Linked DNA regions of Homo sapiens. The protein of the gene in region 3 binds, or shares a complex with, the protein of the main gene of each other region. Each region holds a gene or a part of one and is shown on either strand. Other genes may lie near its edges.

What was found.
Region 1: DAB2IP (region 3) and PAK1 share a complex: the UniProt entries of both Homo sapiens proteins name them as parts of the cytoplasmic complex.
Region 2: DAB2IP (region 3) and MAP3K5 share a complex: the UniProt entries of both Homo sapiens proteins name them as parts of the cytoplasmic complex.
Region 4: DAB2IP (region 3) and DCP1A share a complex: the UniProt entries of both Homo sapiens proteins name them as parts of the cytoplasmic complex.

Annotation. Positions count from the first base shown.
Region 1 is NC_000011.10:77,331,091-77,338,116, forward strand, and holds part of PAK1 (serine/threonine-protein kinase PAK 1), read right to left. Parts: intron 6,334-7,026; coding exon 6,234-6,333; intron 5,193-6,233; coding exon 4,996-5,192; intron 1,778-4,995; coding exon 1,640-1,777; intron 1-1,639. UniProt on the Homo sapiens protein: Protein kinase involved in intracellular signaling pathways downstream of integrins and receptor-type kinases that plays an important role in cytoskeleton dynamics, in cell adhesion, migration, proliferation, apoptosis, mitosis, and in vesicle-mediated transport processes.
Region 2 is NC_000006.12:136,607,478-136,614,503, forward strand, and holds part of MAP3K5 (mitogen-activated protein kinase kinase kinase 5), read right to left. Parts: intron 6,810-7,026; coding exon 6,682-6,809; intron 5,780-6,681; coding exon 5,643-5,779; intron 3,911-5,642; coding exon 3,805-3,910; intron 1-3,804. UniProt on the Homo sapiens protein: Serine/threonine kinase which acts as an essential component of the MAP kinase signal transduction pathway. Plays an important role in the cascades of cellular responses evoked by changes in the environment.
Region 3 is NC_000009.12:121,647,700-121,654,638, forward strand, and holds the start of DAB2IP (disabled homolog 2-interacting protein), read left to right. Parts: upstream 1-3,934; 5' UTR 3,935-4,076; coding exon 4,077-4,200; intron 4,201-6,939. UniProt on the Homo sapiens protein: Functions as a scaffold protein implicated in the regulation of a large spectrum of both general and specialized signaling pathways.
Region 4 is NC_000003.12:53,344,544-53,351,617, forward strand, and holds the start of DCP1A (mRNA-decapping enzyme 1A), read right to left. Parts: upstream 3,001-7,074; 5' UTR 2,975-3,000; coding exon 2,840-2,974; intron 400-2,839; coding exon 359-399; intron 1-358. UniProt on the Homo sapiens protein: Necessary for the degradation of mRNAs, both in normal mRNA turnover and in nonsense-mediated mRNA decay. Removes the 7-methyl guanine cap structure from mRNA molecules, yielding a 5'-phosphorylated mRNA fragment and 7m-GDP.

The DNA.
Region 1 (7,026 bases), on a different chromosome or scaffold from region 3:
TCTCACACCAGTTAGAATGGCGATCATTAAAAAGTCAGGAAACAACACGTGCTGGAGAGGATGTGGAGAAATACGAACACTTTTACACTGTTGGTGGGAGTGTAAACTAGTTCAACCATTGTGGAAGTCAGTGTGGCAATTCCTCAGGGATCTAGAACTAGAAATACCATTTGACCCAGCCATCCCATTACTGGGTATATACCCAAAGGATTATAAATCATGCTGCTGTAAAGACACATGCACACGTATGTTTATAGTGGCACTATTCACAACAGCAAAGACTTGGAACCAACCTAAATGTCCAACAACGATAGACTGGATTAAGAAAATGTGGCACATATACACCATGGAATACTATGCAGCCATAAAAAATGATGAGTTCATGTCCTTTGTAGGGACATGGATGAAACTGGAAACCATCATTCTCAGCAAACTATTGCAAGGACAAAAAACCAAACACTGCATGTTCTCACTCATAGGTAGGAAATGAACAATGAGAACACATGGACACAGGAAGGGGAACATCACACACCCGGGACTGTTGTGGGGTCAGGGGAGGGTGGAGGGATAGCATTAAGAGATATACCTAATGCTAAATGACGAGTTAATGGGTACAGCACACCAACATGGTACATGTATACATATGTAACAAACCTGCACGTTGTGCACATGTACCCTAAAACTTAAAAGTATAATAATAATAAAATGTAAAAAAAAAAGAATTAAAAAAAAAGAAAGAAAAATAAAACATAAATAAAATAAAATAAACTTATGTTCCTTTGCTAAAAATGTATCCTTTGAGCTAATCCCAGCAAAATATAAGTTGTGTAAGATTTGGGTGTCAGAGACCCGTTTCTCAACAAGACTCAAACAAACTCTGCCAGACTAATTCAAACAGAACAAAGGAAGTGCTAATGAAAGATACAAGCAGGCTGGTCATGGTGGCCCATGCCTGTAGTCCCAGCACTTTGGGAAAGCGAAGTGCGCAGATCGCTTGAACCCAGGAATTTGAGACCATGCACGGCCAACATAGCAAAACCCCGTCTCTACAAAAAAGTTTTTAAAAAACTAGCCAGGTATGGTGGCGTGCACCTGTAGTCTGAGCTACCTGGGAGGCTGAGGTGGGAAGATCACTTGAGTGAACCCAGGAGAGGAAGACTGCAGTGAGACAAAATCACGCCATTGCACACTCCTGCCTGGGTGACAGAGTGAGACCCTGTGGGGCGTGAGAGGAAGGGGGAGAGGGAAGAGGGGGGGGAAAGGGAAGGGAAGGGAAAGGAAGGGAAGGGAAGGGAAGGGAAGGGAAGGGAAAGGAAGGGAAGGAAAGGGAAAGGAAGAAGAAAGGAAAGGAAGGAAGGAAGCAAGCAAAAAAGCTACAAGCAAAGCTCAATAGGTGCTCAGAAAATAGATTGTAAACTGAGCCTAGGAGAACGTGTAGAGTTTTAACAGGCTGAGAAAGGCTAAGAAAATAAATGAGCAAAGGCCCAGGGATAAAAGGGCAGTAGGAACAGAGTGAGTGTAGGAAGTGGTAGAAGAGAAGCCTAGTTCTATAATATCCAGTACCTTACAAACATGAAGTAAAAAAGGCCTGGTTTAGTGATTCCCTGAATTAGGTGCTTCCCTGCATAAGGACAGTTACCTGTAGCAGCTCTTTAGCTGAACCTCTCTTCTCCACATCCATCTCGAGACAGCGGTTCAGAAAGTCCCGGAAGATAGCTGACAGCTTCTCTGGGTTCTGAAGTTCTGGGGTCCCATTGGTGGCAATGAGGTACAAGGCCTGGCAATAAAAATGGTGAATCACCTTGAGCTCCAAATGAGGCTCTCTCTTGTTCCCCATATACAAGTTCTAGAAATATGGTCAGCTGCTTTATGCTCTAGGATGCAAAGTAGCAGCTGTGTATATATACTGGAAAGAGTATGACCTAAGGATCAGGTTGAACATTTAAAGGCCATGGGACTATGTACAACTTCCCTGTCTGTAAAGTAGGGATGATGATAATGCCCATCTCACATGTCTGTAAAAATAAAATAAGATAGTGTATTTGAAAGTACTTTGTAAACTTATGAAATATGTTACAGACCTAAGGGTTTATTCTTCTTCTTCTTTTTTTTTTTTTTTTTTTTTGAGATGGAGTCTTGCTCTGTCGCCCAGGCTGGAGTGCAGTGGCACGATCTTGGCTCACTGCAACCTCCACCTCCCAGGTTCAAGCAATTCTCCTGACTCAGCCTCCCAAGTAGCTGGGATTACAGGCACCAGCCACTACACCCGACTGCTTTTCGTATTTTCAGTAGAGACGGGGTTTTACCATGTTGGCCTGGCTGGTCTCAAACTCCTAGACTCAAGTGATCCTCCTGCCTCAACCTCCCAAAGTGCTGGGATTACAGGCGTGAGTCACTGTGCCTGGCTTTATTATTATTCTTGCTTACACATCTGAAGGGTTTATTATCCATTTAGCCTGTTGAGTTAAACATCTGCCCAGCTGCTGGCAGAAATTATTCCTGGTGCCTTCACCTCAGTCATCCAAGAACTGATCTCTTCTAGCAGGAAAGGAATATTAAATGTAAGTGAAAACTGTTGCCACCCTAGTCCCCTAAATGAAGCGTCTCCTGGGAAAGGTAAAGAAAAACAGTAAGACTAAATCTTTACAAGCACTCAGCACTTAATTCAAAGAGTACTTACATAAGCACTGTCTAATTTAATGGCCACAATTAACTCTGGGTAATAGGGCAAGACTTATCATCTTCACTTCACAGATAGGGTCCGGAAACATAAAAAGATATGTCTAGGGCCGGGCGTGGTGGCTCACTCCTGTAATCCCAGCACTTTGGGAGGCTGAGGTGGGTGGATCACCTGAGGTCAGGAGTTCGAGACCATCGAGAACAGCCTGACCAATATGGCGAAATGTGGTCTCTACTAAAAATACAAAACTTAGCTGGGCATGGTGGCAGGTGCCTGTAATCCCAGCTACTCAGGAGGCTGAGGCAGGAGAATCGCTTGAACCTGGGAGGTGGAGGTTGCGGTGAGCTGAGATCACACCATTGCACTCCAGCCTAGGTGACAGAGTGAGACTCCATCTCAAAAAAAAAAATAAAATAAAAATAAAAAAATAAAAAAATATGCCTATGTCTAGGATCATTCTGTCTTATTTCCAACATATCCCAGCAATTATCATCTTCAAATATCTGCAAGGCCGTTCTAAGGGAGGGAAGAGTATGTTGTATGTGGAGTCAGAGGCAAAGCTGGGATCAAAGGATAGAAACTACAGAAGGTAGTTTCAGTTTGGTGCACTGAAGCAATTTCCAATAATCAGAGATATTCAAGGATGACATGAGCATGTAGATGACCACCTACCAGCAACAGTGCACAGGGAATTCCTGCACTGGATGGGAGGTGGGAATAAATGAGAAAATAAAAGCAATCAGAATAAATTTCACATTTGCCCACACCAAGATTACCAACCTATTTGCACCTGTGTTGAGATGCTCTGTTACAAGGGATAAATTGTCCATGCTAATCTAATGTCCTTTACTTCAGTACTTGATCGAACCCCTCTCATCGACTTAAGGATATCACTTCTATGGTTGTCACTTCCTTCTTGTACATGACCATTTTCCTCCTCTCCACTAAATCATTCCCATTAGCACACAGACATCATCTTTTAGAAAAACCCTCCCTTGACTCCATTTTAAGATAGTGCTCCATTTTTGTTACCCTTCCCAGCAAAATTCCTTTAAGAGAAAAAAAAACCTGTTTATACATGCCATCTCAATGTCCTCTTCTTCCACTTTCATGAATTTAATTAGACTTTCATCCCCATCTCTCTACTGATAACTGATTATTAAGGTCATTAAGAACCTCTACATTGGCAAATCCAATGTTCATTTCTCAGTCTCATCTTAACCTATCAATCACATTTGACACATAATCTACCCTCCTCCTCCTTCGGGAAGCACACTGTTCTCTTCATCTCCAGGACACTTCACCTCCAAGACACTTCTCTGTTCTCTCACACTAGAAAGGCCACTCCTTGGTCTACTTTGCTAGTTCTTCCAACCTGTAAACAGTGGAATAACCTAGAGCTCAGTACTCAAATCTCTTTTCTTTAACTGTACTCATTCCCTAGGTGAGTGATCTCATCTACCTACTATATATACCAACTATATATTATCTACTAATAAATTTATGTTTATAGTCCTGACTTCTCACCCTTGAACTCCAGACTCTTAAGCCAAACTCTACTCCAGCTCCACTTAAATGTCCAATTAACACTTCAAATCAGCACATTCAAAACCAACTCTTTATTACCCAACTTAAGTATGCTCTTCACCATTTCAACAGATGGCAACTGAATTTTTTCAGCAATTCAGACCAGAAATCTTGTAGTCATTGCTGATTCCTCTTTCTCTAATATTCAGTTCATCTTGTCAGCTAGTCCTTTAATTTCCTGAATCTGACCACTTCTCACTTCCACTCCTACCAAGACACCACCACTCTGAACTATTACAACAGTCTCTCGCAGTCTATTTTCCATAAAAGCGGCCAAAATGATCTGTTTAAAACATAAATCAGATCACATTACTCCTCAGCTCAAAACCCTCTAATGACTTCCCAACTCTGCAGAATAAAATAACTTATAAGAGAGAACTTCCCTCTCTACTCTAAAATAGCACACCTGTTCCTCCATTACTCTGTTAACTCCCTTACTTTGCTTTTTCTCACAGCATTTACCATCTGTTACTACATATTAATTTATTTTATTTTCATTAGAATAGTTTCTTGCACTTGACAGGGACTCAAATAATTGTTGAATAAATGAATGAGTGACTTCTAATATTCCTTTTCTTTGGCCATTTATACTTTAAGTTCAACAGTGACTAGTTGTATCCAGAAAAGGGATCTCCAGGTTGAAAACCACAGAGAACACCCTGGATTCTTATTTCCTGGGACTAGAGACAACAGCCCAAATAACTTGAAATAGAACTGGTAACACTCACTCTCAGAGGGTTTTCATTGAGGTATGGAGGCTCCCCTTCAATCATTTCGATGGCCATGATGCCCAGGGACCAGATGTCAACCTTGGGCCCATAGGCCTTTCGTGTCACAACCTCTGGTGCCATCCAGTATGGGGTTCCTACCATGGTGCTCCGTTTGCTCTGCTCTGGGGTTATCTGTGCACAGAATCCAAAGTCAGCTAGAAAAGAAAAATAAGAGAAAGAACATACATTTAGGATATACACTCACTTCAGTAAGTGTTGACTGTGTACCTACACATAGGTGACAAGATCCGCCTGGCTTCCAGCTCTGCTATCCTTTGTCTCTCCAAAGTCACTTGACTACCACCTTCATGTCTAGCTCCTAGCCTATTTCCTATTGAACCCTGAAGAGAAATAGAAGGAATATAAGAAACACCATCTCTGGCCTCCTACTTCTCCTCAAACCAGGGGACTTAGTGTTAAAGTCCAAGCTGCCCATTTTGGTCTTGATTGCTCATCCCAATTCTGCTTTGTTCTTGAAAAACCATTCCCATAATCCCAAATCTGGCGACTAGGTCCTTGTCTTATTCCTTGGGCACGAGTCCTTGATTTAAACCCCAATCACCTATGACTAGGCATGGCCCTGTTTTTATGCCCCAGACCCAGGGCTGCTAGCAGTCCTTCCATAAACTGCCCATCCACCCATGACACAGCCTGTTTGTCTGGTCTACTGGTCTTTACACCTTTGAACAAAATGCTCTACCTGCCATGGTTTTTACATTATATTGCAATTATAAATTTATTTAAATTAGGAAGCCTTTGAGAGTATGGATTATGTCCTCTTACTTGTCCTCATATCCCTAGAAGGACCAGCATGTACTGGACATTCAATAAAAGTTTGCTGAATAACTGAATGAAAGAAATTATACAAAACTCTTTTTTCTAATTATCTATTACACGTTTTCCATACTAGATTGAGAAGGTAGGGAAAATTTACTCTCAGTGCCCATCACAGGACCTAGCACAGAGTAACCATTCAGCAAAGTTTTTTGTGGTTGTTGTTAAATGTATAAATGAATGAAAAAATAATGAAATGATATCCTATGATTAATACAGAAAATATAAAACAGCCCTCATATCCCATGAAATCATAAAGACCCTTTGGTGAGTGTCGTAGTTACTATTATATGATGACCATCTCACAGGAGACAGGGCCCCACAGGCAGAGAAGTATTATCATTCCTAAGGCTCCTACTTACTTAGCTTGACAGAGCCATCCATTCCCAACAGAATATTGTCACTCTTGATGTCTCTGTGAATGACCTGGTTCGAATGCAAGAACTCCAGAGCCTGCAGACACTATTGAAGTGGTGTGGGCAGGGGGAGAAAGAAAGGACATACATATAATACAGAAGACTTAATAGAAAATCCACTAATTCAACCTCTTCACTTTAAAATAAAGGAAGTAAGGCCCCAGTGAGTAAAAGGACTTGCCCCAAATCAATCGCAGAGCCAGATCTAGAAACAAGTCTTCCATCTCCTAGCTAAACATTCTTTTAACACTCCATGCTGCCTTTCACCTTAAAACAGTTTTTTTAAGTAAAGGAGTTCCTCCAATGTAATTTTTTTTCTAATTAGATCCTTGGTAAAGGACCTAAGGCCCAAGAGAAATTACTGAAGAAAAATGGAAAGGATCTTATAATGACAGACCAGAGGAAAACAACAAATAAGGGTCATATTTGAGGAAGCAGACATATGGAAGTGATACTAGAAGCAGTAAGTTAGCAGGATAATCTTATTTTGGTGAGGAGATATTTTGTACTATTTTGGATATGCTGAATTTGATATCTGAAGACAAATGTCTGGTAGGCAACTTAATTTATGATAAATTATGGTAAATATTTACAAGTCATTTGGGAAGAGATGATTTTTGTTTAAGTTATAAAAATGGTTGAACCCGGCAAAGGGTAAAGGAGAAAGAGAAGAATCTTGGAAAACACCTATACTTAGCAGGCAGAATGAGTAATAAAGAGACACAATGGTACAATTAAA
Region 2 (7,026 bases), on a different chromosome or scaffold from region 3:
ACACATAATATTTTAAACAAAGCAATTTACGAAGCTGGATAATGAAGATGAGAGCCAACCTGAACACTGGCTTAAGTAAAATCAATGAGAGTATTTGCTCTAAAACTCATACCTCACATATCTGCATTCTAAAGTTTTTTTAAAAAATTGCTTTGAAATATCTATTGTAGAATTTCTTTGCTGCTGCAACTACCCAGGGAGGTGGTACAGCTTAGTGGTTAATTAAACTCTAATGTCACATTTCATTCATTCACTCATTCATTTAACAGATCCACACTGAGGACCTACTATGGGCCAGGCACTGTTCTAGGCACTTAGAATACAGCAGAGGAGAAAACATATAGAAATACCTGGGCTTATGTTTTTGCAGTAGAAGCCAGATGATAAATTATCAGCACAGTAAGTAAATTATACAGCATGTTAGAAAGTGACATGTTATGACCAAAAAAATATAGACCCGAGTGAAGAGGATCAGCAGGAAGGCTGCCATGGTAAATAGGGTGTTCATGGCTGGTCTCACTGCAGAGGTGGACATCTGCGTTGAGACTGGAAGAAGGTAAGAAAGTTACCCATGCAGACAGCTGGGGTAGCGGCAGGAGGAAAAGCCTGTGCAAAGGCCCTGTGATGGGACCCTGCCTGCTGTCATGGAGGAAATGCAGGAAGGTCCACGTTTCTGGCTCTGAGTAAATAACAGAAGAAGAGTAGGAAATGGGGTCTGAAAGGGAACAGACTCCGAATCAGGTCAGAGCCTTGTCCCCCACTATGAGGGTTCTGACATTTGTTTACTCTGAACAAAAAAAAAAAGCAAGCCACTGAGGGCTCTGAGCAATAGGACTTGGTTTATGTTTCAGAGGGATCACTCTGGCTGCAGTGCTGAGAGTAGACAGTAGGGGGCAAAAGTGAAGCAGGAGCACAGTTGGGGAAGCCACCGAAAATGCAGGTGAGCGATGAGAGTGGCAGCAGCAGAGGTGGTGAGAACCGGCCCAATGTTGGACATGTTTTGAAGGCTTCGTGGACGGACTGGGTTGGAGTGTGAGAAAAGAGAAGTGCCCTGGATAACAATGTCGGGAGTGGCTGCCAACTGGGACAGAAGAGTGTGCCGGGGACAGGTTTGGGAGAAGATAATTAATTCCCTTTGGCCTGTTAAGTCTTGCTTGAGTCTCAGCTCTATTACCAACTAGCTTTGTGACCTTGGGCAAGTTATTCAACCTCTTTGAACCTTCATTTTCTCACCACAAACTGGGATAATGATACCTAATGATTAAGGCTGATGTATGAATTTCAATAAAACAACATATGTAAAGCACTTAGTGCAGAGCAAGGTAACACAGTAAGCACTCCATAAATGGTGATCACTGCTGCCTTTTCCCTCATCAAAATCACCAAAAGGTGATGCAGACCAATTTATTGACTGAGCACCTGGGACTAACCCACCTGGGACTTAGTGACCACCAAGTTCACGTTTGAAGCCTATGATGTGCAGGGCCCTCGGGACCGGTGCTGGGGACAGATCTATACATGTTAGTGACACACGTCACTCTTACGTGACACCAGTGGAAGAGGTCCAAGAAAAGGGCTCTGTGAGGACTGCTTTCCTACAATTCCTTTGGAGATTTTACAAAAAAGATGTTCCCCAGATTAGTAGCAGAAGATACTGTGTTAACATCCTGTCCCACAAAGTGTGTGAAACGAGGGATTTTCCTCTCAGAAATTACTGAGTCTTGACAGCACTGAAACTGCTGCTTGCCAAGTTAAGAGTAAGAGGAAAGAAATGTAAAGACATTTGAAGTTATTAATAGGTCAGAATTTAGTTTTTTCAAAAAAATATATTCAAAATGTGTTTAATTCTGTACCCTAAAATATCCATTGCCCTGAGGTGGGAGCTGGGCCAGGGGTATTGCTGACTGAATGCTCTAGGGAAAAAACTTACACAGAATGTCTCTCTCTCCTCCTGCAGGAAGGTAGAGAGAAAGATGGACTAGAGCCAGAAGGTAAAAGCAAAGAGCAAACAGTAGATACAAAATCTGAGTTCTGGCTAGGCGTGGGGGTTCGCACATGTAATCCCAGCACTTTGGGAGTCCAAGGCAGGTGGATCACTTGAGGTCAGGAGTTTGAGACCAGCCTGGGCAACATGGTGAAACCCTGTCTCTACCAAAAATACAAAAAATTAGCCAGGCATGGAGGTGCGTGCCTATGGTCCCAGCTACTAGGGAGGCTGAGGTAGGAGAATCACTTGAGCCCGGGGTAGGGGAGGTCACAGTGAGCAGAGATTACACCACTGTACTTCAGCCTGGGTTACAGAGCGAGAACCCATCTCAAAAGAAAAAACAAAAACAAAAAAACAGTTTTGCCAGGCATGACATCCTAGATACTTAGGAGAGTGGGGTGGGTGGACTGCTTAAACCCAGGAGTTCAAGACCAGCCTGGGCAACATAGCAAGACCCAGTCTCAAAACAAAAACAAAAACAAAAAACCAGTCTGAGTTCTATCCGGTACACACTGCTGTGACTTCTGACTGCAATGTCACTTCTCTCCCAGGTAATTTCCTCATCTACAAAATGGAGGTACTCCCACCTACCTCACAGAATTGAGATGGGGCCATGTTGCTTCATATTAGACCAAAGATTATTCATGATCTTTTTCTCTTCCCTTCCCCTTACCCTTTTTTTTTTCCTGCTAAATTTCTCTCTATAAGAAGAACTTAACACTTCATGAGAATTAGCATGATGGAGTGATAAGAACTAAATGGAGATCAGGTTTGAAGTCTCACACACCCTCCCTATAACTGTTGGGCAGTCATGAATCTCTTGAGTCTGAGCTTCCTCTTGGCTACTGTTACCTTTTTGGAAATCACTTGGTCTCCACCCTCCCAGTACTTTGCACCAGAGGCAGCTCAGTGGTTGCGTTGCCTACTTTCTCAGGAAAGCTCTCTCCCTCCCTTCTTCTGAGTCGGTGAGTCACTTCCTCTTCTGAATTGAAATCCTAGGGTTATTTATATTGTGGAGTAGGGGAGTCAACCACAGAGAGTAAACAGTAAAAGAGGGAATTCATCGTCCAAATGGGAAGTGATTAGGGTATGAGTAAGCATCACAGAGAGGTTGGGCCAAGGAAATGTTTAATAAAAAAAAAAAAAAAAAAATCTTGCTAGAGTTATTGTAGGCCAACCAGGAAAGAAGTAATTACATGAAAAGAAAAATAAGTAACAAGTTGAGAATTAAAAAAAAAAAAAAATCTTCAGTGGCATTAAGCAGGAGACTAACTAAGCAAGTCATATAAATACAGGAAGAGAAAAGGGCCAAATCAAATTCTGTAACACATTTTTCAGTGAGCATCAAAAGATACCAACATTGGCCAGGCGCAGTGGCTCACGCCTGTAATCCCAACACTTTTGGAGGCCACAGGTATATCGCTTGAGCCCAGGAGTTTGAGACCAGCCTGGGCAACATGGTGAAACCTTGTCTCCATCAAAAATACAAAAAAATTAGCTGGGCGTGGTGGCGCATGCCTGTAGTCCCAGCTACTCAGGAGGCTGAGGTGGGAGGATTGCTTGAGCCTGGGAGTTTGAGGCTGCAGTGATAGGTGATCACACCACTGCATTCCAGCCTAGGTGACAGGGCAAGACCCTGTCTCAAAAAAAAAAAAAAAAAAAAAAAAAAAGAAAGAAAAGAAAAGAAAAGAAAGAAAAAAGATACCAACATTACTGTGTGTGAGAACACCAACTGAATTTCTCTCTCACATTGTGCTCAAACTCAGCAATTATTTCTTTAATTACATAAGATCTGTATCATCATTGCAAAAACATACCAGTAAAAGTTTCAGTACAGGGGTTTATGCCAGCAAGCCTCTTTGATGTTCCGAAGTCAGAGATCTTGAGAACACCACTGTAGGTATTAATCAACACATTGTCACCCTAGAGAACAGAGGACTTTAATCACAATTGTTATCTTTCTTCAGATACTGTCTGTTGTTGACTTGGTAAGTCCAATTTAAAAAAAAAAAAGGTGTCCTTACAGCTACCAACGACATTAATTCTGTATTCTTCATTAATAGTTTATCTCAATAGTGCATTCTTGACACTATTTTTTGTTTACATATTATCAGTTTGAAACCAACCGCCTTTGCGAAAATTACAACAGTGAGAAAATTATGACAGTAAAAGAGATCTGATCTAACCACCACCATCTTGCTTTAAATTTCCAAACTGCCCTTGGTCATTCCAGGGTGTAGACCAAGCTCACTTGGAGAAATTTAATTTATAGTTTAGTTGATAATAGCCCTTCCCCAAAACTAAACTATCTTTGTAAAACTAATGAAAGGCCACCAGGTTAGGAGGATGAGAGGGGCCTAAAGTCCGCTAAGATGTAGGCACAGTCAAATGATTATCAGCCCATTATTCTGGGGGTCACAAGATTTGCAACTTCCCCAATTGTTCCTATAATTGACATCACTATTGTAGAACTGAAGACTGGCCTTTTGAGATGTCTTTACAGGCTTCTCCATTTCTGACTATCAGATGGCATCACCCAGACCTGTGACTCTGGACTCAACCAGTCCTGTGGCCCCTACCCAGAAGTGGACTCAACACACAAGAACCATTTTCCACACCCCTATAATTACATCCCCAACCACCCAGACCCTAGCCCCCTGCTCACCAAACTATCTTTGAAAAACCCTAGCCTCTAAATTTTTGGAGAAGCTGATTTGAATAATTATAAGATCCAATATTTTGTTTGGCCATCTCTATGTGTATTAAACTCTTTCTCAATTGCAATTCTTACATCTTGAGAAATCAGCTCTATCTGGTCAGTGGGCAACATGAACTCATTGGATGGTTATAAGTTCTTCATAATCTGCTACTCAGATCACAAGATCAAATATGATTCCTAATTGGTTAGAGCTTGTTGCTATTTACAGATATATAATGATGTATGTATAATTAAATTACGATTTTCATAACTTTCCAGTTACCTTACTTTCTTTTCTATGTTTCTTTACTTCTTTTCCTGGAATATGTAGGGACATGATAGATAAATGGGCTTTTTGGTTGATTTTAGGGTACTAATATTAACTTATTTTCAACAGTCCAGACTTTGTAAAAAATGTATTAGTTCTGAATTTTCTTTTTAAAAAGAGAATGTAAAGTTATTATTTTAGCTTATTTTAGAGAATCTATACCTTATAATTATAGTTAAATCAATGAATATGTGATACTTGTGAGAAAAGAGGAATTTTTTTTCTTCTAACCATTCATCCATTGATTCAATAAGTATTTACTGAGTAGCTACTATGGGCAAGGATACAAAGATTAACCAGCCTATAAGCTCCTCAGGACCAGGGGCCATCTCCTGTTTAACTTTTGACAGCTGCATCCCACACCACAGAGCTCCTAGGAAACATTGTGTGGTGGGAGCACAATCTTGTTGGCTGAACGCAGTTAAGCAGTGTGTTCCTTGAGCAGAAGCGTTAAGACATGAACATAAATAACTGATTCAGGGTTGAACGATATTTTATATTTCTGCTGTTTCTAAGATTTACTTATTCACCATTCTAAATTAATACTCATAACACAATATGACTTTTGCAAGTAAAATAATAACCCAGCAAAGAAAGAACTCATGAAAATGAATGCTGGTGTACCTCACCTTTATGTCCCGGTGAACTATCTGATTGTCATGGAGATATTTTAATCCTTCCAGTATTTGCTTTGTATAAAAGCCAATTGTTTGCTCATTGTCTTTTAATGGACCCCATTTGGAACGAAGGAGAGCAGAAAGACTTCCTGTAAAGTAGGGATAAATAGTAAATAAATCCTCATTCAAATGAGCTCTTTAAAGTGTATTAATAATGTAACAGTAATTTAAGCTAACAGTCATTGGTTCTTCACAGTGGCCCAGGAGCTATACTGGATATCGGGCTCAAACATGAATTTGCAAATATCCCTACTCTAAAGATGCTTGTAATCAAATATGTCTAAGTAAAAGGCCAATGTCAATTGCCAACTTTAATTCAAGTCATGATGATAGATACTGAAATGGTTCCCATATTTATGTATTGTCTCTGTGAAATTACATAATTCACATGTAAAGCTTCTAGAACTTTAAATTATTTGAGCCTTATTATTTAAGGAATGTGACTTTGTGGCCTGAGTCATATAGCATTCAGTTGTAACTTCTGATTCTGCGATTATAGGCTAAATCTCTTCCGCATTTTTGTCCTGTAAATGATTGGAGAAGACTGAATGGTGCCAAAGAAAAGATCCCCCGAGACCATTACCCCTCCTTATGGAACATTAAAATAATGTGCCTTGGAATACAGCAAGCTGTAACCACTTAAATGTAATGACTTTGGGTAGAAGATGTTGCCACCCTGTTAGTCTTCAGCTTATATAAGTGAAACATGAACTTCCTCACTTTGGAACACTGGCCCATTCTTTTGGAGTCTGTGTTTCCTGGGTGGCTATCCTCAAGCTTTGCACTGGAATAAACTCTATACATTAGGATATTTTCTAAATCTCATCATTTATGGTTGACATCTCCTAACAAACTGGAGGTAATGTCACATGTCCAATTTTTCTTTCAGTTTAGACAGATTAAGACCTGTACGCTAGTAAATCCCATTCAATTTTACTCCCCTCCGAAGCTCTAAACATTCACACTTTTTAAAGAAAGAAATATCTCTTACCTCCAGGGACCTGCTCCATGAAGATTTTAATGAAACCATTCTCACTGAAAGAGCCCAGATACTGGACAATATTTTTGTGCTTCAGGTGTTTATGCAATGCTATTTCTTCATGCAGGGGCTGAGAGTATCTAAAAGACATGCAATTGTCAATGAGTTAATTATGTAGCCAGACTTTACTGTATAAATTTAAACAATACAAATGGAAAATGTCAGCCAAATATATGTCCATATGTAAAACCAAAACAACCACTTAAGGCCTTTATTTCTCCTAAGGTAAATTCTATGAGGTTGAAGGTGTGGTAGGATCTGAGGGGAAATGTGTCAGGTACTAAGCCAGTTGTATAC
Region 3 (6,939 bases):
GAGTAGACTTTTTTAAGGAGGGGGTGCTTCAATTTGCAATTGCAAAAATGTATATATACACACACATATATATACATAAACACACATATATACGTATATATACCCATATATACACATATATATACATACATATACATATATATTATATATATACATACATATACGTATTATATATATATACGGGTATATATGTATATATATGATGGAATACTACTCCGCCATACAAAGGAATGAATTAATGGCATTCCCAGAAACCTGGATGGGAATTGGAGAATATTATTCTAAGTGAAGTAACTCAGGAAAGGAAAACCAAACATCATATATTCTCACTCATAAGTGGGAGCTAAGCTATGAGGATGCAAAGGCAGAAAAATGACACAATGGACTTTGGGGACTCAGGGAACGGGTGGAAAGGGGGTGAAGGATAAAAGACTACAAATTGGGTTTAGTGTATCCCAAGTTACTGCTCGGGATATGGGTGCACCAAAATCTCACAAATCACCACTGAAGAACTTACTCATGTAACCAAATGCCAACTGTTCCCCAAAAACCTATGGAAATAAAAAATTTAAAAAATAAAAAACTGAGGGGATGCTTGAGCTGGGTCCTGAAGGGTAAGCAGGAATGCACCAGGTGGGTGCAGAGGGAAGACCTTGGTGGCAGCGGTCCAGGTCCCACCAACAGGGCGAAGACTGGTGGTGGGAAAGAGTGTCTGGAGGATGACCAAGGGGGCTGAAATGGGTTGGGGTGCAAGCGGGAGGTGGTCGCTTTTTGACACAGCTTGGTCTCTGAGAGTTCGCCTTGGGAGGCTTTTGAGGGGAGGGTAAAGGTGCTGGTGGTGGGGTTAGGTCAGATCTGATTTAGCCAGTCCTAGTACCCACACCCCTACTTACTAAACTTGCATGTTTCCAGGCCCCATCCAGACCCACTGAATTGAGCGTCTTGAGGGAAACTCAGAAATATGCCTGTTCACTGAGTGAAGGTGATTTGGGGGCTGCAGCCCTGTCCCCGCTAAAGCAGCACATGGGAGAGGTGGGAGCTGGGCCTATTCAGGAGCCCCTCTGGAGGTGGGAGAATAAGACCAGACCTTTAGCCCTGTAGGTACTGAGGCTCTCATGTTGGCAGGGCTGGAAAGTCCGATCTGTTGGTCTGTCACAGGAAGCAGTGGTAGCAATGGTGGTGGTGGGCACTGGAAGCAGGGCTTCTCCTGTTCAGAGAGAGAAAGCCACAGGGGCGCCGGCGGGAGGTGGGAGCAGATGGGGGGCCAGTTTCCCAGCAGGATTGATTCCAGGTCCCCTGCTGGGCTGTACAGGGAGCGGCCTTTAACTGCCCTGTTCCTGGGCCAGGAAGAAGGAAAAGGAGCCTGGGCTCTTTCTCTCCTAGCTCCTGCCCTGCCCCCTTCCCACTCAGTACCCGGAGAGTACCTGCCCCAGGCCCGTGGAGATGCTCGGCTCAGCTGGTTGGCGATGCCCATTCCCATCCCAAGGGTAGAAATGCACAAGCTTCCTCCATTTCACTAGCTGACCCTCCTTCCTCCACAAGGCAGATGGATTGGGGGTCCATACGTTCTCCCTATAGGTAGGGAAACTAAGGCACAGAGAAGGACTTGAAAAGCTGAAGTGGGGAGACCATGCCAGACCTTTGGAGCCCAGCTGTGCTTACAGATGAGGTCCTGAGTTCCAAGTTACTGCCCCCTCTCCCCTCCACACACACTCCTCAGACTTCCTGTTGGGGGCCCAGGCTAAGACCACTTGCCCACACCACTGATAACAGTGAGTTGATTGTGAGCCTCCCGTCCCCTCCAGGGAGGGCTGGAACCTGGCTGATCAGAGGGTTCCTGCTTTGGGAAACAAAATGGGCCAGATGAACTCAGGCCCTGGGAGCAGGACCGTTGCCCCCGTCCTGAGTAGGACTTCCTGGGAGTCCCTCACCCCCAGAACCCGTGGACCTGGCTACGGAGGTTAGTCATGCCTGGAAGTGCCAAGATGTGGACAGGTGGTGCTCAGAACCCCACCTACGTGAGGAGGCACTGAACTGGGTTCTGGCAGTTTGGCCAGAGGAGGATGCATGCTAACAAGGCCCCCAGCTTGCCTGGGGACTGAGTGACTGTGTGTGCGCTCTGTCCAGGGGCTTCTTTTTAGAGACGTTCCTGCACCATGTCTGCTGTTGAAAGGAGATAGGGCAATGCCTCCAAGCTTGTCTGACCTGCAGCCTACCGGCTGCATGTGGCCCAGGATGGCTTTGAATGCTGCCCAACACAAATTCATAAACTTTCTTAAAGCATGATGAGGTTTTTTTGTGTGTGTGGTTTTTTTGTTTGTTTGTTTGTTTTAGCTCATCAGCTATGGTTAGTGTGAGTATATTTTATGTGTGGCCTGACAATTCTTCTTCTTCCAGTGTGGCCCAGGGAAGCCAAAAGATTGGGCACCCCTGGCCTAACCCAAAGGAGGCTAAGGGTGTCCTCTTGGGCACCCTGGTTTTCCATCTTCCTGTGGGATTGGCCAGTATTCAGGGAAGAGGGGACCAGGGCAGCTGATAGCTCTGGACTCCTCAGACTGAGTTTGCTGGAGTAACACCCCTCCTGCCCCTCCCCCCTGGTCAGGGAAGGCGCCTGGCTTCCAGCTGTGAGACAGGCTCCGCAGGACTAGGGACCCTCCCCGCTGGCTGAGAGCGCTAGGGAGGGGGCTTCCCCTGTGAGGTGCAAAACCCGGCCTGGATTTCTGCCCAGACGGCCCCGCCCACTCCAGGGCCCCACCTTCCCCACTGTTCTGGAGGAAGATCCCCTAGCCGGCCTCAGGCACTTGCGGTGACTCACACCCCCCACCCCTAAGTCTGAATGTTGAGAGCCCCAGGCTAAGACCACTTGCCTCTGCCACTTTCCATGTGACTGAGGCAAGACCTCCTTGCCAAGGCCTCAGTTTCCCCCTCTGTACTTCAAAGGAGGCAGCTCAGGCAGGTGTCTTAATAATTTAAACGACGAATATTGCTAAAGAGATAAGGGGCGGGGAGAGAGAGAGATCACTGTGGGCCATGGTTAGGGAAGGGTGGAGGAGCTGGGTCCTGAAAGGGTGGACTTTGGTCGGGTGGAGAAAATAGCCAAGAAGGCAGTCCCTGCTGGCAGCACAGCAAAGAGAAGTGAGAATTAGGGGGAGCAGAGGTGAGGCTGGAGGGGACTTTGGTTGGGGCAAGATTATTTGGGGTCCAAATAACAAGGATGTTTAGACGTATTGCCATTGTGCTCTGGGGAGCCACGGAAAGCTCTTGAGCTGAGGAGTGACTTGGAGAAAGTTTTTCAGCCAATGCAATAGAGGGAGTTGGTACCTTTCCTTCTGCCACCCTGAGTTTCTGGTGCCTACGGTAGGGTAGGGATTGTTCTGCCCTGCCTTCAGTGCTTTGAGTGCTTGAAACAGACACCGTAATTTTAATTACATAAAAATGATACGTGTATCAGACGGGACAACCTTTAAAACGTAAAGAAGAGGCAAGTATCCTGCATCACAGGGGAGTCTTTCAACCTGGCTGGGCCAGGGCCTGCGGAGCAGTGAGGGTCGTTTCTCAGCCCAGCGAGCCTGGGGCAGGAACGGACCCTAATTGAAGGTGACCGTCCCCAAGCATGCGTCCTACCCCGGGCTCCGGAGAGCGCACAAGCAGGTGTGCACCGTCTACCCGCGCTGGCGGGATTGGGTGCCTGGTGCGCCCTCAGGTCGACGGTCGAACCCTCGGGGGCGGGGGTGGGAGCCAGAACCCTCGGGACGACCCGTCTGGGGTCCCGGGGAAACTCCGGGCCGCCTCGCCCCGCCGATTCCAGGCCGGGATTTCTCCCGCACTGACTTTCCGGGCCGGTGCCAGCCCGGCCTCCGGGTCCCCAGCCCCCGCCGCGGGGCCGGCTGCTCGGGGAGCGGGAGGGGGCAGGAGGCGGAGGAGGAGTTTGAGCGACTTTGTGGGGCAGCCAGGGCCTCGGCGGCCGCTCGGGCGAGCGCGGGAGAACGCGTGGGCGCCCGCCGGGCTGTCCGGAGCGGCCGATGGGGCCCGTGTGAGCGCGCCCAGGCCCGGCCCGGTGCCCGGCGGGCGGCAGCATGTCCGCGGGCGGCAGCGCCAGGAAGAGCACCGGGAGGTCCTCCTACTACTACCGGCTGCTGAGGCGGCCCCGGCTGCAGCGACAGAGGAGCCGCTCCCGCAGCCGGACCCGGCCTGCCAGGGGTAGGCGCCACCCCGACCCCTGACCCCTAGACCCTCCTAAGGCCACTAAGCCACCTGATGCCCTGGGATGCTAGGGACCGGGATCCTCCTTCCAGCCATTTGCCGGGGGTTTCCTCATCCGCCCCTTCCTGAGTCTGCCGGACCCCCCATTCCCCCAGCTTCTGCTTAGTCCTCCTCTCGCCGGGGGAAGCCGAGGCTCTAGGGTCTCCTCTTAAGCCAGGGACAGGGAGAGGGGAGCCTGGAATCTTTCTCCGCATCTCAGATCAGACCTCCTACCCCACTGTGCCTCAGTTTACTCAGCAGCCGGGCAATAAAGTAACCCAGGGTGGATCTGAGCTTTCCCACACCTTGCCTTCCCAGCCCAGGCCGCGGACTTCTTTCTTCCCTTTCCAGGAACTTAACGGGCTCCCCACCTCTTGGGTGCTAGGACAAGTGGGTGGACCTCAGGGAAGGAACCGTGACCCCTCGAGCGGGTGGGCGCCAGCTCCTTTGCAAAGTTTCTCTCCATCAAGCTCAGGAGGCAGGACGAGACGGAGGGGGAGGTGCGAGCAGCATTTTCTTTTTCCAGTAACAGGATCCTCGGCTGGAAATGCGTGTGATCCCGGGGGCTGCGTTTGGGCGGGTGGTGGCCGGGACTTCCTTCCCTGGCTGAGTAGGAGGGAGGGAAGCCCCTGGGAGGAGGAGGCCTTCAAAGGGGCTCTGGGGAGGCTGGAGTCCTAGGCAGAGGTTCAGGCCCACCGAGGGTGCCCGTGGGGTGGAAGGGAGGAGAAAGACGGCGCCTTAGCAGGGACCTGGGCCGAGTTGACACCATCAGGTTATCTTGAAAGTGGGAAGCCGGGCCCTGTGCCAACAAATGCCATGCAGGGAATCTGGTAGACCAAGAGGGGCCACATTCCCACCCTGCAGGCTGCCGTTGTGTGACCTGGGCTGAGCTGCCTCTGAACTTCAGTTTTCTTGTCGGTGTGAGGGTAAATGAAGCAGGCAGGTAGTGTTCGGTTGCTTCCACCAGAATGGGGAAGACTTTTCCCACAGTCAGGTCTGAGTAGCACTGTGCAGTCCAGGGCTTCCTCAGGAAGTAGTGAGTTCCCTGTGCACAGAAGGGTTCAAGCTGAGGCTAAGTGTGTGCACAGGTGTGTGCTGGTAGTTCAGTCCTCAAGGGTCTCTCAAAGCCTGCAATCCCCCCACTCCTGCCTTTCCTGAAGTCTTAGTAAGTACAGAATTAACAGTACTAAGTTACTTAGTAAGTACAGAATTAACAGTACTAAGCCTTTAGTACTCCTTGGAGGGAGTACTAAGCCTTTAGTACTCCTTGGAGGGAGTACTAAGCCTTTAGTACTCCTTGGAGGGAGTACTAAGCCTTTAGTACTCCTTGGAGGGAGTACTAAAGACCTGGGGAAGGCTTTATCTCAGTGGTTCAGGTTTTGGTTCTTCTATCTCTGTCCTTCTATTTAATTCTGTACTTGCTAAGACCTGGAGAAAGGCTTAGTACTGTTAATTCTGTACTTACTCCCTTCCCCTGGACTTGGTCTGGGAGACCGGGAATCTGGGCTCAAGCTTTGTGACTTTGGGCAAGTCATTTCCCCTTTCTGAGCTTAGTTTTCCTGGTTGTAAAATGGACCTGCCGTATGTGGAGGATTCAGTGAAGAAACTGAGAAATGGGAGCTTTGAAAATGCCCAGTACTGTTCAGACCACCCTGGGGCCTCTCCTTCTGCACCCACCTCACGTCACCTCACCCACCCGCCCCTCCTTTGCCTCAGAAATGCCCTGTGTGACCTTTTCCTCTTCTCACCTCAGCCCAGTTCCATCCCTGACTGTAATGGGAGTCTCGCTCCTGTTCAGCTGACCTCCTGCTCAGCTGACCAGGCAGGGGATAATCAATGTGTCAGGGGCTGTCACCTGAGCCCCAGCTCCCAGACCCCACATACACAGGATCACTGCTTGTGTCCCAGCTTGAAGGAGCTCACGGCCTGCAGAGCGGGGAGGAGACTGTCTCTGAACAGAAGTTATATCTGGGGAGATCAGGGAGAGCTTCACAGAGGAGGTGACATTTGGATGGGATCTCACAAAATGGATAGGGTTTCCCTTCGCAGAGGGAGTAATTGAGTCAGATCTGGGTTCAAGTCTCAGCTGTGCACACAACTATTCTACAGCCAGTTACCTCTCCAAGCCTCAGTGACCTTGTGTGGTCAATGGGGCTAGCAGTGACAGGGTCATGTGAGGGCCAGAAGCCAGTGCCTGGGACTAAGGCTGCAGCTGAGGGTGAGCTACTGTCTTCTCTCTGGACAGAATGAACAGACTGCGCAGTCAGGGAGAAGGAAAACGGCTTGGGTATTGAGAATAGAGTTCCTCCTGGGTTTGGGGAGGGGAGTGGATTGGGAAGGGGGCTGGGTGAGTGGGTGGGGAAGAGCAGGCAACAGTAGTTTGGATTTGATAAAGGGCCTTGAACTTTGGGAGGCCAAGGCAGGAGGAATCCTTGAGCCCAGGAGTTCAAGACCAGCCTGGGCAACATAGCAAGACCCTGTCTCAATATTGTTTTTGTTTGTTTGTTTGTTTGTTTTTTTAAAAAAAGAAGGCCTGGAGTGATGAGGAGTTAGTTACAGCTGCAGCCAGGGTGTAGGGTGGAGGCTGGAGGCACCCTGTCCTCCTCCTCCTTGGTGGGAGGCAGCTAGGGCAGCCATTGCCCTCCCTCCACTAAAGCCTCAGACGCCTGACTCTACCCCAGAGCCACAACCACCACC
Region 4 (7,074 bases), on a different chromosome or scaffold from region 3:
AACATTATTTTACAGAGCCAGTCTATGTATTGTCTTTTCCCCAAATATATATCTTTCTTTTTCTTTCTAATATGGGGGTAGGAAGAGAGACGCAGGCATCCATTTTAGACTCAATCATTATTATTTTGAAATTGCTTTGCTAGGCTGGTAATATAAATTCTAGTTCAGTTTATTCTGAATCACAGAAAGGCTCAGAGAAAAGAAAGAACCTGGTTAAGATTTCACAGCTAGGGAAAGATGAAAACTTGAAGGGTACTAGCAGGACGGTTCCAAAGACAAATGTACAAGAGAATTGAACCGTTTCACATTGTTCACCACTAGACTGTTAAAAACAAATATACATATTTTAAAAACTTACCTTCGATATACGAATAAGGTCCCTTCTATATCAGTCTTCTCCTATGAAAGACAATGACTCAATTAGTTTTTTTTCCCCATAATCAGACCCCAAATAGTCCCCATGGAGAAGTAATGCTTCACGTTTAAGATCAACTTGTTTCATTTCATCTATTATAAAATTAACCACTTTTGAACAGGTAAAGTCTCCCTCTCATTCCACAAATTGTGGTTACCATTTCTAATGTATCCTTTCAGTGCATAAGCATATGCAATATTTAATCCAGCAACATATCTGTATCTGCAGTATTTTTCTTTTTTAATTAGTAAAGGAGAAAATCATAGAATAAACCTTCACTTTTTATAGCTAAAATATTTTAGCCAGATTTCTTAACTTTAAAGCTAAGGTCCTGTATACTGCAATTTCTTCTCTTTTAAGTTTATCCAAGTTAATTTTAAAAAAGGAAAGGAATGAAACTTTCTTATAGGATACTTTGTTTCATCACTAGGGAGTTTTCGTACATTTTGACAACTAGCAAATTTTGTGGTTAAGAATTACTACCAAACAAAATCAGCTTGTTATTTTTAGAACTTGAAGAATCTTGAATACTGAAAGTATACCCTGCCTCAGTGTAATTATTGGAGGCCTTTACCATAGTTCATTTTCTGTGACAAGAGTGTATTTAGGTTTTAAACACAGTTCAGTGTTTTTTAAAAAATAAATAAGCTTATTAGTCTGCAATTTACAGCCTACAATGGACCTAAATATTTTACTGTAATCAACGCATTATTAACATTTTAAATGTTAGTCATATATTGAATGTGTTGGGATTAAAAAATTTAGAAAATTGATCATCTCGATTTCTTCCAGAAGTACTACCCTAGCTTAAATATCATTATTTTCCTTCCTAAGGATTCAGAGGCTTTTTCTTACCTTTAAAATGTTAGGTTATTACTATAAGAAACTGGTAATCAACTGTCTTACAGTAAAAGAAAATTTGCCCACCAAAAAACATCATGCAAAGTTACAACTCACTGTAAAATAATAAAGAGGGAAAAGATTTTTGTCATGCTCTATGTGCCAGGATCCAAATAAACAGTAGCAGCTTATTTTTCAATTCAGGTTATTATAGCTTGTATTTCATATTTAAAACAGAACTCCACAATGTAAAATTTTAAAATATTGAAAGCCTTTGTGAAAAACTAGGAAAACTCTAGCCCCAAGTCTTCACCATTTGTCGGCAATCCATATTTCAAAATTTATATATAGGCCAAGAAAAGAAAAAAGATTCATAAAATTTCAAACTAAGGCAATGTCTAAAATAGCTACATTTAAAAAACAATCTACAATTTTATTCCTTGTGGCTTCCCATATCTCCTTCTCTTCCAGGAGGCAAAGATAAACAACGTGATTATAAAAACTCTTCATCTGAATTAACTGTTCATAAATGCCAAATGATTTTCGATAAATTACTGATAAATATAATCTATGCAACTGTATTATAGGGTAAACGACATACTACGGTCATCTTCCAGAGTTCTGTCAGTTTAAGGATTTCGTATCTTATTGAAATGTGAACTCCAGTCATTGGTGAATTCAATCCAACAAGCATTTACGTATTACTTTCTAAGTGTAAAGCCTGTAGCTGAATGAGTTAATTAGGAAGGGTCAATTACAAGAAAGTGGGAAATTATGCTTTTTAAACAACTAACAAAGCTTCAAGCAGGGGCTAACAAGAATCAGTGAACACACTGAATGTGACTTTTCGGACCCTCCCCAGTGCACGAAAGCCAGAAAGTACTGAGTCCGAGGGGAGCATTCAGAGATGACATCACCAGCATCATAGATGGAACAAAACACATTTACAGGGTCTCTCTTGTTTGTACAAAGGTCTTCGGGGATCCAGTGAACACGGAAGCCCTTTTCCTAAGTGCCTTGGAATCTTTTCCGAAACTCTGTGTAGTTCGATTAAAGCCGGACCCACCCACCCCCTCCTTCCAAGAATCGAAACTAATTGGATTTTAAACTTTAAACCCAAATGACCTCTGCGACAGGGGCTCTCATTTACGTTTGCCAGGGGGAGAGGAGGAGTGTTTATTTTATAGATAATGTACATATAATTTATCTAATAATCCGCAAAGCCTCAAACACAAGCTTTCAGGCACCCTTTTGACCCCACCGGTCTTATAACTCCCAATGTATCTGCAAAGAAGGCAGGTCGCCCACGTCCCCAGACCCGACGCCAAGGGACTGATCCTGCTCCAATCCTCCCCTCCACTGGCTTTTCCTTGGGATGTCTCGAGCCACTTCTCTCACTCCTATCCCCCAATCCCAAGCGGACCCGACACCCCTCAGGCTCTGGCTAGGCTCTTGGCCAGACCCTGGCCTCGTCTCCACCGCCCTGGCCTCTTAGTGTGCCCCCCCACCCCACAGTAACCCGCGCGGCCCCTTTAAGAGACGGCAGCGGCCGGGTGGCCGTCCTCAGGGCCAGGCGGCACTCACCCACTGGTTGGCCTTGGGGCAGAAGGTGTACAGAGCGACCTGGCCCGTGAGGTCTGCGATGCTGGTGATATAGGGGTCGTGTTGCTTCAGGGCCGCTAGGCTCATCTCCTGCCCAGCTCGACTCAGCGCCTCCATCTTGAATCCCAGAGCCTAGCCCCTCTGGTGGGGGCGGAGTCGCGGACAGGAAAGTGCCATCGAGGCAAAATTCCCCCATCTGCGTCAGTCCCCTCAACTTCCGCCTCTACGCGGGCCTCGCGGCAGGGCGGTACGTCAGCCATTCTGGTCCGCCGCGCGCACGCTCCGGGCGCCGGGTTCCGGCGTTGTCAGGGTCCGCGGCCCTACGATGTGGGCGGTGTCCAAGGCTGCGTAGTGGAGCTTGCAGGCTGGAGCTCCGGCGCTTCCTTTCCCTGAGCTAAAACGACTGGGTCCTGGGATCTGGCCTCTAGCTCGCCTGCCGAGCTCTTTCCAGGCAAAGGTTGGAGACCGCCGAAGTGCCGGCCTCGCGGTGCGCTGTCTGGCAGGGCCCGGGGCCACAGAAGGAAAACATGTCTGTGGAATGTGGAAATGCGGGACTCTACCGGGCCCGTTTAGAGAGCACAGAAAAACATGGGGGAAAGGGAGAGGCGAGAAGCCCAGAAAATTACCCTAGGTCTCAGATATGGATGTGTCGACCTAAAAGGAAGAAGACTCTGGGGCAAAATAAATGCAAGCAGAGAGTTTATTTGGGCCAAGCTTGAGGATTGCACCCCAGGAGCATAGATTCAAGTTGCCTTGAATATATACACTGATTAGCAGAAGGTACAAGTGGATTTTTTTTCTTTTTTTTTGAGACGGAGTTTCACTCTTGTCGCCCAGGCTGAAGTGCAGTGGCGCGATCTCGACTCACTGCAACCTCCGCCTCCAAGGTTCAAGCGATTCTCCTGTCTCAGCGTCCCCAGTAGCTGGGATTACATGGGCGCGCCACCATGCCCTGATAATTTTTGTGTTTATAGTAGAGACGGGGTTTCGCCATGTTGGCCAGGCTAGTCTCGAACTCCTGACCTCAGGCGATCCACCCGCCTCTGCCTCCCAAAGTGCTGAGATTACAGGCTTGAGCCACCGCGCCCGGCCCTTTTCTTTTTTTCTTTTTGAAACGGAGTCTCGCTCTTTTGCCCAGGCAGGAGTGCCGTGGCACAATCTCAAGCTCACTGCAACCTCTGCCTCCAGGGTTCAAGCGATTCTCCTGCCTCAGCCTCCCAATTAGGTGGGATTACAGGCGCCCGCCACCACACCTGGCTAATTTTTTCTTTTTCTTTTTCTTTTTTTTGAAATGGAGTTTCGCTCTGTCGCCCAGACTGGAGTGCCGTGGCGCGATCTCAGCTCACTGCAACTTCTGCCTCCTGGGTTCAAGCGATTCTCCTGCGTCAGCCTCCAGAGTAGCCGGGATTACGGGCGCCCGCCACCACGCCCAGCTAATTTTTGTATTTTTTTTAGTAGTGACGAGGTTTCACCACATTGGCCAGGCTGGTTTTGAACTCCTGACCTCAGGTGATCTGCCCTCCTTGGCCTCCCAAAGTGCTGGGATTACAGGCGTGAGCCACTGCGTCTGACCCACATAAATATTTTTGTCCAGCCCTGGGAAGAGTCCATGAAGGGTTTAATTTGTCTTGCTTCATTTAAAGCATTAAGCAGATCACTCATTTCATTGGTAAGTGTCTGTTGAGCATTTTAAAGCGTTTGAAAGAGTTAGGCACTAGCTAACAAGTAAAACAAATCATGGAGACTATAGGGAGTTCTATCCCCGCCAGACTTCTTAAAAAGCAACATTTCTTTCGTTAAAAAGGTCATGGAGGCTGGGCGTGGTGGCTCATGCCTGTAATCCCAGCACTTTGGGAGGCTAAGGTGGGAAGACCGCCTGAGGTCAGGAGTTTGAGACCAGCCTGGACAATATGGTGAAACCCCGTCTCTACTAAAAATACAAAAATTAGCCGGGCGTGGTGGCGCACGCCTATAGTCCCAGCTGCTTGGGAGGCTGAGACAGGAGAATCACTTGAACCCGGGAGGCGGAGGTTGCAGTGAGCCAAGGTGGTGCCATTGCACTCCAGCCTGGGCGACAGAGCAAGACTCAAAAAAAAAAAAAAAAAAAGGGTATGGTAGCTAGATGTGTGGGCTCACGCCTGTAATCCTAACACTCTGGAAGGCCGAGGAAGGTGGACCACTTGAGGTCAGGAGTTGGAGACCAGCCTGGCCAACATGGTGAAACCCCATCTATACTAAAAATACAAAAATTAGCTGGGCGTGGTGGCACATGCCTGTAATCTCAGCTACTCAAGAGGCTGAGGCATGAGAATAGCTTGAACCCAGGAGACGGAGGTTGCAGTGACACAAGATTGCACCACTACACTCCAGAGCTTGGGCAACAGAGGGAGAAATTCCATCCAAAAAAAAAAAGGGGGGGGCATGGTGGCATGTAACTGTAGTCCCAGCTATTTGGTAGGCTGAGGTGGGGATCACTTGAGGTCAGGAGTTCAAGACCAGCCTGAGCAACATAGCAAGACTACGTCTGGAAAGAAAAAAAAATTGACATCCCCAACAGAATTGAAAATTTTTGTAAGATAAAACCATATTTTCAAGAAAATAACACTAAATATTTGTATTGCCTATGATTTTATATCCCAGGACCACTGTTTTTTGTCATTGTGTTGATGAGAAGAGTCAAACTCTGTAAAATAGTTGAAGAAATTTATTCTGATCCAACTATGAGTGACCATAGCCCTTGACATAGCTCTCAGGAGATCCTGAGAACATGTGCCCAAGGTGATTGGGGCACAGCTTGGTTTTATACATTTTTGGGAGAGATGAGACATCAAATACATTTCAGGTGTATATTGGTTCTGTCCAGAAAGGTGAAACAACTTGAATTGTGTGCCAGCACACCTGGCTAATTAAAACTTTTTTTTTTTTTTTTTTTTTTTTTTTTTAGAAATGGGGTCTGGCTCTATTGCCCAGGCTGGTCTCAAACTCCTGGCCTCAACCAATCCTCTGGCCTGGGTCTCCCAAAGTGTCCCTGATAAAATGAGTTTTTTCCCCACTGTGTATCAGTCACAAACAAAGAATATCCCATTGAAAAAGGCAATCAGGTTTTATTCATTTGCCAGGGAATGGAGAAGGTGAGCTCTTCCTCTGAAAGCATCTTTTCTTGAAGAATAAAAGGCAAGGGGTTTATTGCCTTTATTCCTATGGGGCAGGAAAGGAATGTTAGTATGTGCAGGGTGGGACTCCAGACACGCAGGCCCAATTCATAAACATGCATCTTCATATATCATATGTACACAAAATGGCAGAGATTTTCTTTTAGGGAAGGGAAATTAGCATTATAATGATATGTTCATGATCTAAAGGCACCCAGGGTTTGCCAGTTCCCATTTGCGCTGGTTTTATGGTGTCTTATCTTCCTCTGGCATCTGGTCAGGGGTCAAGAAGCTCTGGCGCCATCTGGTTTCTTTAAGCAGCAGTGTCTATAGATAAAGGGACCAAAGAAAAACAATAAGAAAAAGGAACTTTCCCAGTTATTTTGTCAGGGCTGTCCTGGTTAACAAAAATGCTGAGATTACAGGCTTGAGCCACCGTGCCCAGCCCCCCTGTTTGTTAATGTAAAGAGAAATTTAGATTCTTTGCAGAATCATGTAAACATGTACAAATGTGGACAAAGACACAGATATCATTCATTCACTCTTAAGTCAGTATTTATTGAACTCCTAATTGTGAGCTGGTGGCCCCTTGGGAGCATCTCACTCTGTTTAAGACATTCCTGGCTCTGAGGGAAAAAAGAAAGTAGGACAGTGCAAGGAAACAGGGATGATGCTAGAGACATTTCTCTTTGAAATCCAGAGGACAGAGCCGCTAACTTAACTGGCTGGGAAAGTCTAGGAGGGCTTCCTGAAGGAGATGATGTTCAAATTGGTGTTCTAGGGATGACTGGGAGTTCAGGGGAAAAAAGTAAGGCCTCTGGTTCATTTCACAGCTCAGTGGTGAGGTAGAGAAGATGTCGTCACCCTCATTTGACAGATGATTTAATTGAGACCTGTGGGGAGAATTCACTGGCTCAAAATTCCACACTAGTCACAGAGGATCCAGTATTAGAATCTAGGGACTCCTATCTTCTACCCTGGGATCCTTTCCTACACGCCCCAGATGCCTTTCTTCCTTCCAGTGGCTGGAGGTAAGAGCCCTATTCCTCTCTACTTACCTTCAAT